Regions from separate parts of the Homo sapiens genome. Here region 2 is linked to region 1. The links come from fine-mapping of genetic effects on gene expression. A gene starts in region 1. The other region holds a variant in brackets. All regions are shown on one strand. Distances are between the middles of the regions. Region 1 holds the start of XRCC4 (X-ray repair cross complementing 4). Region 2 overlaps XRCC4 (X-ray repair cross complementing 4).

Evidence for each region. PIP is the estimated chance that this variant, and not a neighbour inherited with it, causes the effect.
Region 2: its variant is the best candidate, but not a certain one, in a credible set for the expression of XRCC4 in testis (GTEx, PIP 0.62).

What each region holds. Positions count from the first base shown.
Region 1 is chr5:83,075,872-83,078,788 of GRCh38, forward strand. It overlaps XRCC4 (X-ray repair cross complementing 4), which reads left to right and starts at 1,676. Exons shown (of 8, transcript NM_003401.5): 1 at 1,676-1,744. It overlaps TMEM167A (transmembrane protein 167A), which reads right to left and starts at 1,523. Exons shown (of 4, transcript NM_174909.5): 1 at 1,450-1,523. The coding sequence starts at 1,452. RefSeq lists enhancers at 639-1,604, 1,261-1,530, 1,605-2,570 and a silencer at 1,591-1,680.
Region 2 is chr5:83,125,967-83,128,883 of GRCh38, forward strand. The region is part of intron 3 of XRCC4 (X-ray repair cross complementing 4); the gene reads left to right. Among named protein-coding and RNA genes, the nearest start is that of XRCC4, 50 kb to the left of the region's middle. The variant G/A (reference allele first, on the strand shown) is at 1,223.

The DNA.
Region 1 (2,917 bases):
GCTGCTAAGTTAGCCTTCTTGAAACCTCACTTCGTAGCTCTGCAAACAATGTACTTTTGACATCCCAAGCTCACAGGAATAAAAAACCACCTGCCAGTTGTTTCCGTTTTCCACCTATGTCTAATTTATGTACTTATATTTATAAGAAACAAATCACTAAGTCTTATTTCATCCTTAGTTATGTTGTGTTTCTATCGATAACAGCATGAAGATTTCGGGGACCTGGACATTAAAATAAGTTTGAGTACTGGCTTTACAATCTACTAGGTGTGATCCGAGGCAAGTCAGTCTCTTCATGTTTCACTTCTTTCACTTGTAAACATCTATTCAGAAGTTGCTGTGAACTTGATATTTCCATGCTTATAAACTGATTTTTTGAAAAGAGCCTGGTACATAGGACGTGATAATAAATGAAAGCATTTGCTACTTTTGGAAAAACAAGCATGACAAGATAGTTTATATACTGTTGATCTTAAGCACAGTATATGCATCTTATTTTTAGCTAGTCTGACAGTGAGATAATAAAAAGAGTTATCTTTGACTTGCACTACGAGTAGAAGAATTCAACTTCAGTTTCTAGAAAGATGTATAAGAATTAAGAGTGGCAGTCTTCCTAGTCTCAACTGCCATCTTCCCACCAGGTGGTAAATTCGTCCAGAGAAGAAAATGAATTATTGCTATATGGGATTCTGCAGCAACTTCTGTGAACATAGGCTCATAATTTTTCACCATGGAGACTCAAGCTTTTTGGAGTCATAGTTGTTTTTGGGTCTATTTGCAGGCATGCATCCTTTGTCCAGAAATATACATAACATTTGGCACATGGACCTGGAGGTAAAAGAGGAGGAAGGCCTGAGGCTAGACACCACTCCAATAAGTACATTAAGCTCCTAGAAGGGCAATCCACCTTTGCAGAGAACTCTTAACTATTAAAACCTATAGCTTGTAAAGCAGCATTTTCAAAGTTAAGAGAAGAAGGTGGAAGGGTCTTGAGAGGCTACTGACTAAACAGATGAAAATGAAGGTATGGAGTTTGGTGCCAAAAGAAACTCCCCCCAAAAATCAAACAATAACACCAGAGTAAAGCCCCTAGGGCGAGATAAGGAGTTGCAACAAAACAAGCGGAAACTCGAGAAGCGCTAATGCTTCAAAGGGTCAATGACCACACATAATCTACGTAGCCAACGTGTTAAAACACACCAACGCATTTTTTTTTCCTAAACAAAGTAGGAAAGCGGACTTTGCATGAGGGGCGGGCTGCCGACCCAGCAGTCTTCCTCGGACAGTCCGTCCTGATTCTCTCTGGTTGGCCGTGGAGGGACCACATGGCTCCAAGGCCTCTCAGCTCCGGGCCCACACACCCCGGGCTGCCGCACAAACTCCAGCCCTAGTCTAGATCCACAACCCCTTCTCGAAGATCAACCGCGACCTGGGAGCCCCACTTCTTACCATAGCGAGGCCGGCGATGCCGCAGCCACATCACCCTTCCGGGGCTCAGGCGGAAGAGGCTGCATGTCCCGTCTGCCCTTCTCGCCCTCTCCAGCCGTCCGGTTGGGCTTGTCACGGCACCGCCTACCAAGACGGGCGGTTAAGACACTAGGATAGGCTCCTCTCCACCGGAAAAGGCGGGATTTAGATCACGTCCCGCAGGCCGGCGGAAGTAGCTGATACTCTCATTGGTTGCAAAACCTTGATCTGTGAAAGCGGGCGTTTTGGAAGATACCGGAAGTAGAGTCACGGAGAGGTAGGATCCGGAAGTGGGGCTGCCTCTTTAAATAACAAAAATCTGAGGTTCTGTTCTTTTTATCTTTTTGCTTTCTTTTTAAAAAAGTTCCCTGCTACTTACCCCTAGAACTCCACAATGCGAGAATCCCCCTCAATTTGTGAGCTCCCGCGACTTCCTCTTGTGGGCTTTTGGGGATGCTAGGGTTCTCGGCATTATCCTCAGGGTGCGACCTGTTCACCCCCTTTTCAGTTTCTCCGTTTGCATCTGAGGGATTCTTGGGAATGCGAAGCACTTTTGAAATGCTCTGTGTTGGTTGTGGGATTGGGAGGACGGTTGAATCCAGAGGGTAGTGTTGAGTAGGCTGTTTGAGCATTTCCCCAGCACTGGCCTGTCCTTTCAATCCCCAGATATTGGTAAACTGTGGGTTCCAACCAGGCATCGAGGCTGAAACGTACTAGGCAATTTGAGGTCAGGAAAGAACTTTCTGTGGTAACCAATGGGAAGGAACTGCCGTTTGCGGACTGCAGCGATTGATTAGGTACTTTAAAGAGATCAACTGGCAAGACAAATGACAAGGCAACTTTTAATCAGTAGTAGTATTTAGCTTTTTCTGATTTTAATTATCCCATTAGGTGAGGTTCTACTACACACACACGTTTTTCTTTCTGCATTTTATCGATGGAGAAACAGGCGCTTTGACATGTTTGAATTTGCGTAGTTCTTGGAATTCTAATAAAGTATTAGAAATGAGAGTTTTTCACTCTTTGCCCCCTTATGGCAAGCTTTTGGTTCTAAATGTGTGGTGTATTTTTTCTCAGGCAGGAGAGAGTTCTTTTCAGAATGTTTTCAATTTTTTATGGACTTAGAAGGTGGATAGAGAGAAAGAGAGAAGGTAACTCACGTGAGATTTTGGTTTATGAACTGTATTCGGCCTATGAGACCCTTTTGTATTTAGGGCAACACAATGATTAGAAGATTTGGGATTCTGCTATTTGTGTTTACATTGTTCACTAGGGCACACAAAGGTTTTGTTTTAAACTATAACTAACTTGATATTTGAGTCTGTTATATTGAATTGTCAAGAGTTGGTCAAATACACAAATTAGCAAGTATTTACTGGGTGCCTGCTTTATTCATGGATCTTCAGATTGCAGCATAGGAACAAAGATGGTCTGTTCCTTTAAGGAATTT
Region 2 (2,917 bases), 50 kb after region 1:
GAGTGAAACTCCATCTCATCAAAAAAAAAAAAAAAAAAAAAAATTGAGTTACGTGAATCTTCCAACTTTATTCTTTTGAAAAATTTTATTTTAGATAATTTACTTACTTTGCCTTTCCACATACACTTTTAAAATCAGTTTTACTCTATTTATTTAAAAAAATTGAGTCATAGAGTTTATCAACATGGTATGTCTATATAGGTTTACTTTGAAATCTTGCATCAGAATTTTGTAGTTTTTAGCATACAGATCCTATACATGTTTTGTTAGATTTATGCCTAAGTATTTCAGTCTTTTTGGCACTGTTATAAGTGGTATTATATTTTTAATTTGAGTTTACAGTGGCTCATTATGAGCATCTATTAATAGAAATTCAACTGACTTCTTTTGTGTTAACCGTATATTCTCCAAACTTTCTAAATTCCCTTATTTGTTCTAGGTGGTTTTTTGTTGTTATTGTTGTTTGCTTTTAAGATTCTTTGAGAATTTTTTCTGTAAACAGTGATGTTATCTGCAAATAGATGCAGTTTAAAGGCTGTTGCAGAGAGCTTCAAGGCCCAGGCAGAGACTTGCTATGGGGATGGGGCTGCCACAGAGCCCCCACAAAGTCAATGCCCAGGGGAACTGTGGGGTATAAGCTGCTACTGAGAGCCCCCTTCTCCACTACTGCAATGCCTGGTAGAGCTGTGGGAAGAAGGCCACCTGAATACTCCAGAACTAAGAGCCACGGTATGCAGTGCCAGCCTGGCAAAGCTTACAAGCATAGGTTTTAAATGTGTGAGAGCTGTAATGTGGGCTGTGCCAGCAAAGCCATGGGGGCAGGAATGTCCAAATCTTAGAGACTCAATCCTTCCAACGTATCTGGAAGGTGGGACATGGAACCACATAAGATTATTCTCCAGCCTTATGGTCTAACATTGTATGCCTTGTTGGGCTTTAGACATTTCTGGGACTTGCAACTCCCTTCTTTTTTCCTGTTTCTCTTTTTGGAATAGAAATACCTGTCTTACGCCTGCATTGTGTTTTAGAGCGACAAAACTTACCTGTTTGATTTTACAGGGAAATTTGCTTAAGGATTAATTGTTCCTTGAGTCTCACCCATATCTGATTTAGATGAGACTCTGGACTTTAGACTTTTGTGTTGCTGCTGAAATGAGTTAAGACTTTTGGGGCTACTGGGATGGAATGGATGTATTTTGTGTGTTATAAGGACATGAATTTG[G/A]GGGGCTAGGGGTGGAATACTATGGTCTGAATATGTCTCCCAAAATTTGTGTGTGGAAAACTTAACCCCTGATATGGTTTGGCTATTTCCCCACCCAAATCTCATCTTGAATTGTAGCTCCCATAATTTTCACATCTTGTGGGAGGGACCTGGTAGATGATAATTGAATTATGGGGGCAGTTTCCCACATACTGTTTTGTGGTAGTAAGTCTCACGAGATCTGATGCTTTTATAAGGTGATACCCTTTTCACTTGGTTCTCATTCTCTCTTGCCTGCCGCCATGTAAGATGTGCCTTTCACCTTCTGCCATGATTCTGGGGCCTTCACAGCTACGTGGAGCTGTGAGTCCATTAAACCGTTTTTGTTTTTGTTTTTTTTTAAATAAATTACCCAGTCTTGGGTATGTCTTTATCAGCAGTATGAAAACGGACTAATACCATCCCCAATTCAACAGTGTGAGGAAATGGGGCCTAATGGTGCATGATCAGGTCTGGAGCAATTTATTCCTCCATATAGATCCAGATTTCCATGTAATAATATTTTTCTTCTGTTTGAAGGACTTCATTTAATATTCCTTATCATGTGAGTCTGCTTAGGATGAATTCTATCGGATTTTATGTATCTTCCAAAGTCTGTACTTTGTCTTTCTTTTTAAAAGTTATTTTCACTGGGTAGAGAATTCTAAGTTGACTTTTTTTTTTTTTTTCAGTACTTTAAGAGCATTGCTCTGCCTTCTGGCTAGTTTTGTTAGTTTGTTTGTTTGTTTGCTGAGAAGTCATCTGTCATTTATTTATTTATTTATTTTTATTATACTTTAAGTTCTAGGTTACATATGCAGGTTTTTTACATATGTATACATGTGCCATGTTGCTGTGCTGCACCCATTAACTCCTCATTTACATTAGGTATATCTCCTAATGCTATCCGTCCACCCTCCTGCCACCCCACGACAGGCCCCAGTGTGTGATGTTCCCCATCCTCTGTCCAAGTGTTCTCATTGTTCAGTTCCCACCTATGAGTGAGAACATGTGGTGCTTGGTTTTCTGTCCTTGCAATAGTTTGCTGAGAATGATGGTTTCCAGCTTCATCCATGTCCCTACGAAGGATATGAACTCATCCTTTTTAATGGCTACATAGTATTCCATGGTGTATATGTGCCACATTTTCTTAATCCAGTCTATCATTGATGGACATTTGGGTTGGTTCCAAGTCTTTGCTATTGTGAATAATGCCGCAATAAACATACATGTGCATGTGTCTTTATAGCAGCATGATTTATAATCCTTTGGGTATATACCCAGTAATGGGATGGCTGGGTCAAATGGTATTTCTAGTTCTAGATCCTTGAGGAATCACCACACTGTCTTCCACAATGGTTGAACTAGTTTAAAGTCCCACCAACAGTGTAAAAGTGTTCCTAATTCTCCAGATCTTCTCCAGCACCTGTTGTTTCCTGACTTTTTAATGATCGCCATTCTAACTGGTGTAAGATGATATCTCATTGTGGTTTTGATTTGCATTTCTCTGATGGCCAGTGATGATGAGCATTTTTTCATGTGTTTTTGGGCTGCATAAATGTCTTCTTTTGAGAAGTGTCTGTTCATATCCTTTGCCCACTTTTTGATGGGGTTGTTTGATTTTTTTCTTGTAAATCTGTTTAAATTCTGTGTAGATTCTGGATATTAGCCTTTTGT